2 linked regions of the Homo sapiens genome follow. The protein of the gene in region 1 interacts with the protein of each later gene in a pairwise test. Each region holds a gene or a part of one and is shown on either strand. Other genes may lie near its edges. The genes, in order: NEUROD4 and LRRN2.

Evidence for each region.
Region 2: the proteins of NEUROD4 (region 1) and LRRN2 interact in a two-hybrid assay, tested with the Homo sapiens proteins (one large-scale study listed by BioGRID and IntAct).

The regions. Positions count from the first base shown.
Region 1 is NC_000012.12:55,026,449-55,030,270, forward strand, and holds the end of NEUROD4 (neurogenic differentiation factor 4), read left to right. Parts: coding exon 1-987; 3' UTR 988-3,569; downstream 3,570-3,822. UniProt on the Homo sapiens protein: Probably acts as a transcriptional activator. Mediates neuronal differentiation. Required for the regulation of amacrine cell fate specification in the retina.
Region 2 is NC_000001.11:204,616,544-204,619,934, reverse strand, and holds the end of LRRN2 (leucine-rich repeat neuronal protein 2 precursor), read left to right. Parts: coding exon 1-2,084; 3' UTR 2,085-2,765; downstream 2,766-3,391.

The sequences.
Region 1 (3,822 bases):
ACTTTTGTAAAATCCAAGGAGATGGGAGAGCTAGTCAACACACCATCCTGGATGGATAAAGGTCTGGGCTCCCAAAATGAGGTGAAGGAGGAAGAGAGCAGACCAGGTACTTATGGGATGCTCAGCAGCTTAACTGAAGAGCATGACAGTATTGAGGAAGAAGAAGAAGAGGAAGAAGATGGGGAGAAACCTAAGAGAAGGGGTCCCAAGAAAAAGAAGATGACCAAAGCTCGCCTTGAGAGATTCAGGGCTCGAAGAGTCAAGGCTAATGCCAGAGAACGGACCCGGATGCATGGCCTGAATGACGCCCTGGATAACCTGAGGCGAGTCATGCCATGCTACTCTAAAACCCAAAAACTTTCCAAGATAGAGACTCTTAGACTGGCCAGGAACTATATTTGGGCTTTATCTGAAGTCCTGGAGACTGGCCAGACACCTGAAGGGAAAGGCTTTGTGGAGATGCTGTGTAAAGGGCTCTCTCAGCCCACAAGCAACCTGGTGGCTGGATGTCTCCAACTGGGCCCTCAGTCTGTCCTCCTGGAGAAGCACGAGGATAAATCTCCTATTTGTGACTCTGCCATCTCTGTCCACAACTTCAACTATCAGTCTCCGGGGCTTCCTAGCCCTCCTTATGGTCATATGGAAACACATCTCCTTCATCTCAAGCCCCAAGTATTCAAGAGTTTGGGAGAATCGTCCTTTGGGAGCCATCTGCCTGACTGCAGTACACCCCCTTATGAGGGCCCACTCACTCCACCCCTGAGCATCAGTGGGAACTTCTCCTTGAAGCAAGATGGGTCTCCTGACCTAGAAAAATCCTACAGCTTCATGCCACATTACCCTTCTTCAAGTCTAAGCTCAGGGCATGTGCATTCAACTCCTTTTCAGGCTGGTACCCCCCGTTATGATGTTCCTATAGACATGTCCTATGATTCCTACCCCCATCATGGTATTGGGACCCAACTCAATACAGTCTTCACTGAGTGAGGCAGTTAAGTTCAATGTTTCAGAGAATGACGTGGAGACATTTTCCATAATTCAAGTGGTTGAGCTAAAGATTCAATGACCTTAAAGGATCCCTATGGATATATATCAAACAATAGTTCAAGTCCATTTAGGCTTTCCTTCACCTATCACCTCTTTTCTCATCACCTTCTCACATTGCATTGATTTCTTTATAGAGTCCTCAAGTGAAAATATTTGATGATTTAACAACCATGTGAAAATAGAACAGAAGACCTGGGCCCTATTCCAGTGGTGCCAAAAACTCATTGCATAATCTGTGCCAATTAATTTTCCATTTCTGGCCTTTGTTTATTTACTAGCAATTGTAAATAAACAAATTGTATTTATATGAGGCAACTATTCTAAGTCCAGATGATTTCTAAAGTCCTTCACAGTTCTGAAATGCTATAACTGTGGTGATCACTCTTGACAATTTCTTGAAACTGAAAGAATAGAGAAATAATAGGAAAGGGATGCTATGCATAGAATGATCAAATTGAATTATCAGAGGGATCACAAGGTACATGTCTCTTGGCTCACAGAATGCAAAGCTTGTTTGGATTTAATGATAGGACCTCTTTGTATCTATTGAAAAATAGCTTCTGGAAGCTAAAAGTCTAACATGGCTGTCACTGTGAAGAACAAAACATGTTCGTTAAGAGACTAACTCTATTTGTTATTAGACTAAAAGTTGAACATATCTTCCTTATGATTTGAAGAACCATAATAGAGAACCATAATAGAGGCCTCATGCCAACTTTATTCTTGATAATATTTCAAAACCATTTTTCTCAGTACTAGAGGTAGGGCAAACAAGTCACTGAAGCCTCAGACTCCTATAACTAATGGGACATAGAGAAGTCTTTTAGACCATGACCTCCATAACCAGAGGGCTCTGGAACTTCTGATGAAGCTCAGGTGCTGCTGTTAGAATCAGCACACAACACAGGTTTATATTAAAGAGCAATAAAATAGCTATTGGCTATAATAACTACTATAGTTCAGGGACTCTCTCCAGCTCACAGTTGCCCATGGGAAAAACCAATGGATTTTTTTTTAAGCAAGATGAATTTCATTTGGTTAAACGTGATTAAAACCATCCACCTCTGTCCACACCAATATATTTTCCAGAAGCACAAGCACCAATCAATTTATTGATCAAGGTTAAATTTTTCCAACATATATGTAGTTCCTTATCTCTCCCCCTACACTAATTGTTACCTCTTCCTCACTTCTAAGATAGAATATGTTATTATATATTGTAAATAACATTTCAGGTGACCAAACTTAAGGATGCAGAAATGAAATCCAAGGTTGGTGAATATTTTTACCAACTATGTCTTCATCACAGGTTTAACCCAATTTGCAGAGTGTTTATTTTTCTTTATGTAACTCCTTTTTCCTTTATATCAATGCTAACTTCATCAAATTTGTATTTTTTTTCAGAAAATGGGACCTGAGAAATTTTCCTATCTTGTTCAATCAGCCAGGACAGTTATTTAAGTCAAACCAGAGCCTGAATGGCTTATTTGATAGTAGATTAGGTCCTGCTCCTGCCAGAAAGGATAAGTTTAACATGCAGGGTACATCAATAGGGCCAATTTAAAAAATGATAACACATATTAGTATGTCATTTTCTATAGCTCAGCTATCCCCTAAAATCTGCCAACTATATGTGTATCTTGTCTGTTTACCTCTCTTATTTATTATCTCCATACAGTATAAGTTATTTTTTTTCCATTTTGCTCTCAGCACTTACCCTGCTGTATTTTGCACCCTTGGTTTGTAAATTCACTTGAAAGTAGCCTTGCAGAGAGATCTTAAGCCCCATCAGTCACCAAAGTGGTTCCCTTCATCACAATCTGCCCTAGAGGAAATAGGCAAGTAAAATGATATATAAAGCCATACTATGTGCTTTCTGAGTATATACTGCACTTACCTTTGTGAGCGGCTGTAGGAGGGTCTATCCTCGAAGCTAGCATTTTCTGGCATTTAAGTTTGTAGATAATCACTGTTGTTTGAGTTATTTATTAGATATTATTTATTTAATTTATTTCTCTCTTCCTTTCACGAAAATTCCTTTAGCCCCATAGATGTGCTTGCAAACCCTTCCTAAAATTTTATTTGGAAAGTAGCTCATAATTTTGCTAAGAACTGCTGAGTTTTGGAGTGAGGGGAAAGGAAAAAATAGAGAATTACCTCTGTGATAATTTTTATAAAAAGCAGCAATAATTCGAATGGCTATGCAAGTTAATGTTTTTAGAGTCTTTTCTTCAGTCTAAAATGAGCCAGAGTTATTCTTTAATAATCTGCTGTTTATGCCTTTGGGGAGTATGGTACCCATGAGCCAAGCCTCCCTGAAATTGTACAGAGGGATTTTATAATTGAATTAAAATTTAGGAATGCAATAGCTTGTAAAGAGCCTGCTCTCCAACATAGGGTGGTCTCATTCTTCTGGAGACTTTTTTAGATAAAGTAAAATAATTGTTTAAATATTTTGTTTAAAATATGACTGTTTTTCCTCCCTTTTTCCTAGCAGAAATAAAGCTGTAAGTCTTATTAGATGTTGTGTTGTGCTGTGTTGTTAGTCTTCAGATCTTTCATTCACTCTCATTTATTCATTTTCTTGGGCTCTATGTCCTACAAGCAGCTAGCTGAGCAAAGACTGGTCTGTCAGGAGGATTTACACATCCCGTAATTCAATTGATCTTGCTAGAATATTCGAAATATGCAGTTAGAAGTCTAGAAGCACTGGTCTCTGCCACTCATATAATCAAGTATAAAATCTACAGTTAAGAAAAAATAATCTTACAGATT
Region 2 (3,391 bases), on another chromosome or scaffold:
TGCCCGTGGTACCCTGGCATGTTCCCTGCCCCCCTCAGTGTGCCTGCCAGATCCGGCCCTGGTATACGCCCCGCTCGTCCTACCGCGAGGCTACCACTGTGGACTGCAATGACCTATTCCTGACGGCAGTCCCCCCGGCACTCCCCGCAGGCACACAGACCCTGCTCCTGCAGAGCAACAGCATTGTCCGTGTGGACCAGAGTGAGCTGGGCTACCTGGCCAATCTCACAGAGCTGGACCTGTCCCAGAACAGCTTTTCGGATGCCCGAGACTGTGATTTCCATGCCCTGCCCCAGCTGCTGAGCCTGCACCTAGAGGAGAACCAGCTGACCCGGCTGGAGGACCACAGCTTTGCAGGGCTGGCCAGCCTACAGGAACTCTATCTCAACCACAACCAGCTCTACCGCATCGCCCCCAGGGCCTTTTCTGGCCTCAGCAACTTGCTGCGGCTGCACCTCAACTCCAACCTCCTGAGGGCCATTGACAGCCGCTGGTTTGAAATGCTGCCCAACTTGGAGATACTCATGATTGGCGGCAACAAGGTAGATGCCATCCTGGACATGAACTTCCGGCCCCTGGCCAACCTGCGTAGCCTGGTGCTAGCAGGCATGAACCTGCGGGAGATCTCCGACTATGCCCTGGAGGGGCTGCAAAGCCTGGAGAGCCTCTCCTTCTATGACAACCAGCTGGCCCGGGTGCCCAGGCGGGCACTGGAACAGGTGCCCGGGCTCAAGTTCCTAGACCTCAACAAGAACCCGCTCCAGCGGGTAGGGCCGGGGGACTTTGCCAACATGCTGCACCTTAAGGAGCTGGGACTGAACAACATGGAGGAGCTGGTCTCCATCGACAAGTTTGCCCTGGTGAACCTCCCCGAGCTGACCAAGCTGGACATCACCAATAACCCACGGCTGTCCTTCATCCACCCCCGCGCCTTCCACCACCTGCCCCAGATGGAGACCCTCATGCTCAACAACAACGCTCTCAGTGCCTTGCACCAGCAGACGGTGGAGTCCCTGCCCAACCTGCAGGAGGTAGGTCTCCACGGCAACCCCATCCGCTGTGACTGTGTCATCCGCTGGGCCAATGCCACGGGCACCCGTGTCCGCTTCATCGAGCCGCAATCCACCCTGTGTGCGGAGCCTCCGGACCTCCAGCGCCTCCCGGTCCGTGAGGTGCCCTTCCGGGAGATGACGGACCACTGTTTGCCCCTCATCTCCCCACGAAGCTTCCCCCCAAGCCTCCAGGTAGCCAGTGGAGAGAGCATGGTGCTGCATTGCCGGGCACTGGCCGAACCCGAACCCGAGATCTACTGGGTCACTCCAGCTGGGCTTCGACTGACACCTGCCCATGCAGGCAGGAGGTACCGGGTGTACCCCGAGGGGACCCTGGAGCTGCGGAGGGTGACAGCAGAAGAGGCAGGGCTATACACCTGTGTGGCCCAGAACCTGGTGGGGGCTGACACTAAGACGGTTAGTGTGGTTGTGGGCCGTGCTCTCCTCCAGCCAGGCAGGGACGAAGGACAGGGGCTGGAGCTCCGGGTGCAGGAGACCCACCCCTATCACATCCTGCTATCTTGGGTCACCCCACCCAACACAGTGTCCACCAACCTCACCTGGTCCAGTGCCTCCTCCCTCCGGGGCCAGGGGGCCACAGCTCTGGCCCGCCTGCCTCGGGGAACCCACAGCTACAACATTACCCGCCTCCTTCAGGCCACGGAGTACTGGGCCTGCCTGCAAGTGGCCTTTGCTGATGCCCACACCCAGTTGGCTTGTGTATGGGCCAGGACCAAAGAGGCCACTTCTTGCCACAGAGCCTTAGGGGACCGTCCTGGGCTCATTGCCATCCTGGCTCTCGCTGTCCTTCTCCTGGCAGCTGGGCTAGCGGCCCACCTTGGCACAGGCCAACCCAGGAAGGGTGTGGGTGGGAGGCGGCCTCTCCCTCCAGCCTGGGCTTTCTGGGGCTGGAGTGCCCCTTCTGTCCGGGTTGTGTCTGCTCCCCTCGTCCTGCCCTGGAATCCAGGGAGGAAGCTGCCCAGATCCTCAGAAGGGGAGACACTGTTGCCACCATTGTCTCAAAATTCTTGAAGCTCAGCCTGTTCTCAGCAGTAGAGAAATCACTAGGACTACTTTTTACCAAAAGAGAAGCAGTCTGGGCCAGATGCCCTGCCAGGAAAGGGACATGGACCCACGTGCTTGAGGCCTGGCAGCTGGGCCAAGACAGATGGGGCTTTGTGGCCCTGGGGGTGCTTCTGCAGCCTCGAAAAAGTTGCCCTTACCTCCTAGGGTCACCTCTGCTGCCATTCTGAGGAACATCTCCAAGGAACAGGAGGGACTTTGGCTAGAGCCTCCTGCCTCCCCATCTTCTCTCTGCCCAGAGGCTCCTGGGCCTGGCTTGGCTGTCCCCTACCTGTGTCCCCGGGCTGCACCCCTTCCTCTTCTCTTTCTCTGTACAGTCTCAGTTGCTTGCTCTTGTGCCTCCTGGGCAAGGGCTGAAGGAGGCCACTCCATCTCACCTCGGGGGGCTGCCCTCAATGTGGGAGTGACCCCAGCCAGATCTGAAGGACATTTGGGAGAGGGATGCCCAGGAACGCCTCATCTCAGCAGCCTGGGCTCGGCATTCCGAAGCTGACTTTCTATAGGCAATTTTGTACCTTTGTGGAGAAATGTGTCACCTCCCCCAACCCGATTCACTCTTTTCTCCTGTTTTGTAAAAAATAAAAATAAATAATAACAATAATACGGGGGAAAGGAACGAAAGGAAAATAATCCTCTGAGTATTGAGTGTGGTTAAGGAGCTCTGCTCTGGACTCTCCTCAGAGCCTGGAGGGTGATGGGCATGGGGGCCAGCTGGGATATGAGAAGAGGGACAAGAAAAGGGATAGAGTGAAAGAGGGGACAGTTTTTCCTTTTCGGTTTGAATTCTGGCCCCTGGGCCTGCTTCTGGCCCCCAAGAGTCTCTGTGGCTGTGACAACGACCAGAGTGAGGAAGGGAGGGAGGCAGAGCGCAGGAGGCAAGGAGAGGGGTGGGAGAGAACCATGGAGACGAACCTGAGATGGGGAGAGCGGAAATTTCCATCACCAAATGCCGTCACCCCTTCTCCTTCTCTGATAAGCAATTAACATGCCAGAGCATAGGAAGCACTTCCCAGCCTATTTCTAATTAAACAAACCCAAGAGGCAGAGTCATGCAGAGAGTTGCAAATCATCAAGACAGCAAGAACTTTGGCTCACTAGGGCAGGAGCAGGGCATGGGGTGATAGAGGATTTAGGGAGGGGAGGGCTATGGGATAAGGAAATTACTGCATTCTATCTGTCCATTTCATTTTGGTATAATTTGCAATGAGCATGGTTTGCTTTTTTAGTTTTTTTGTTTTTAAACTGATTGAGTTCTT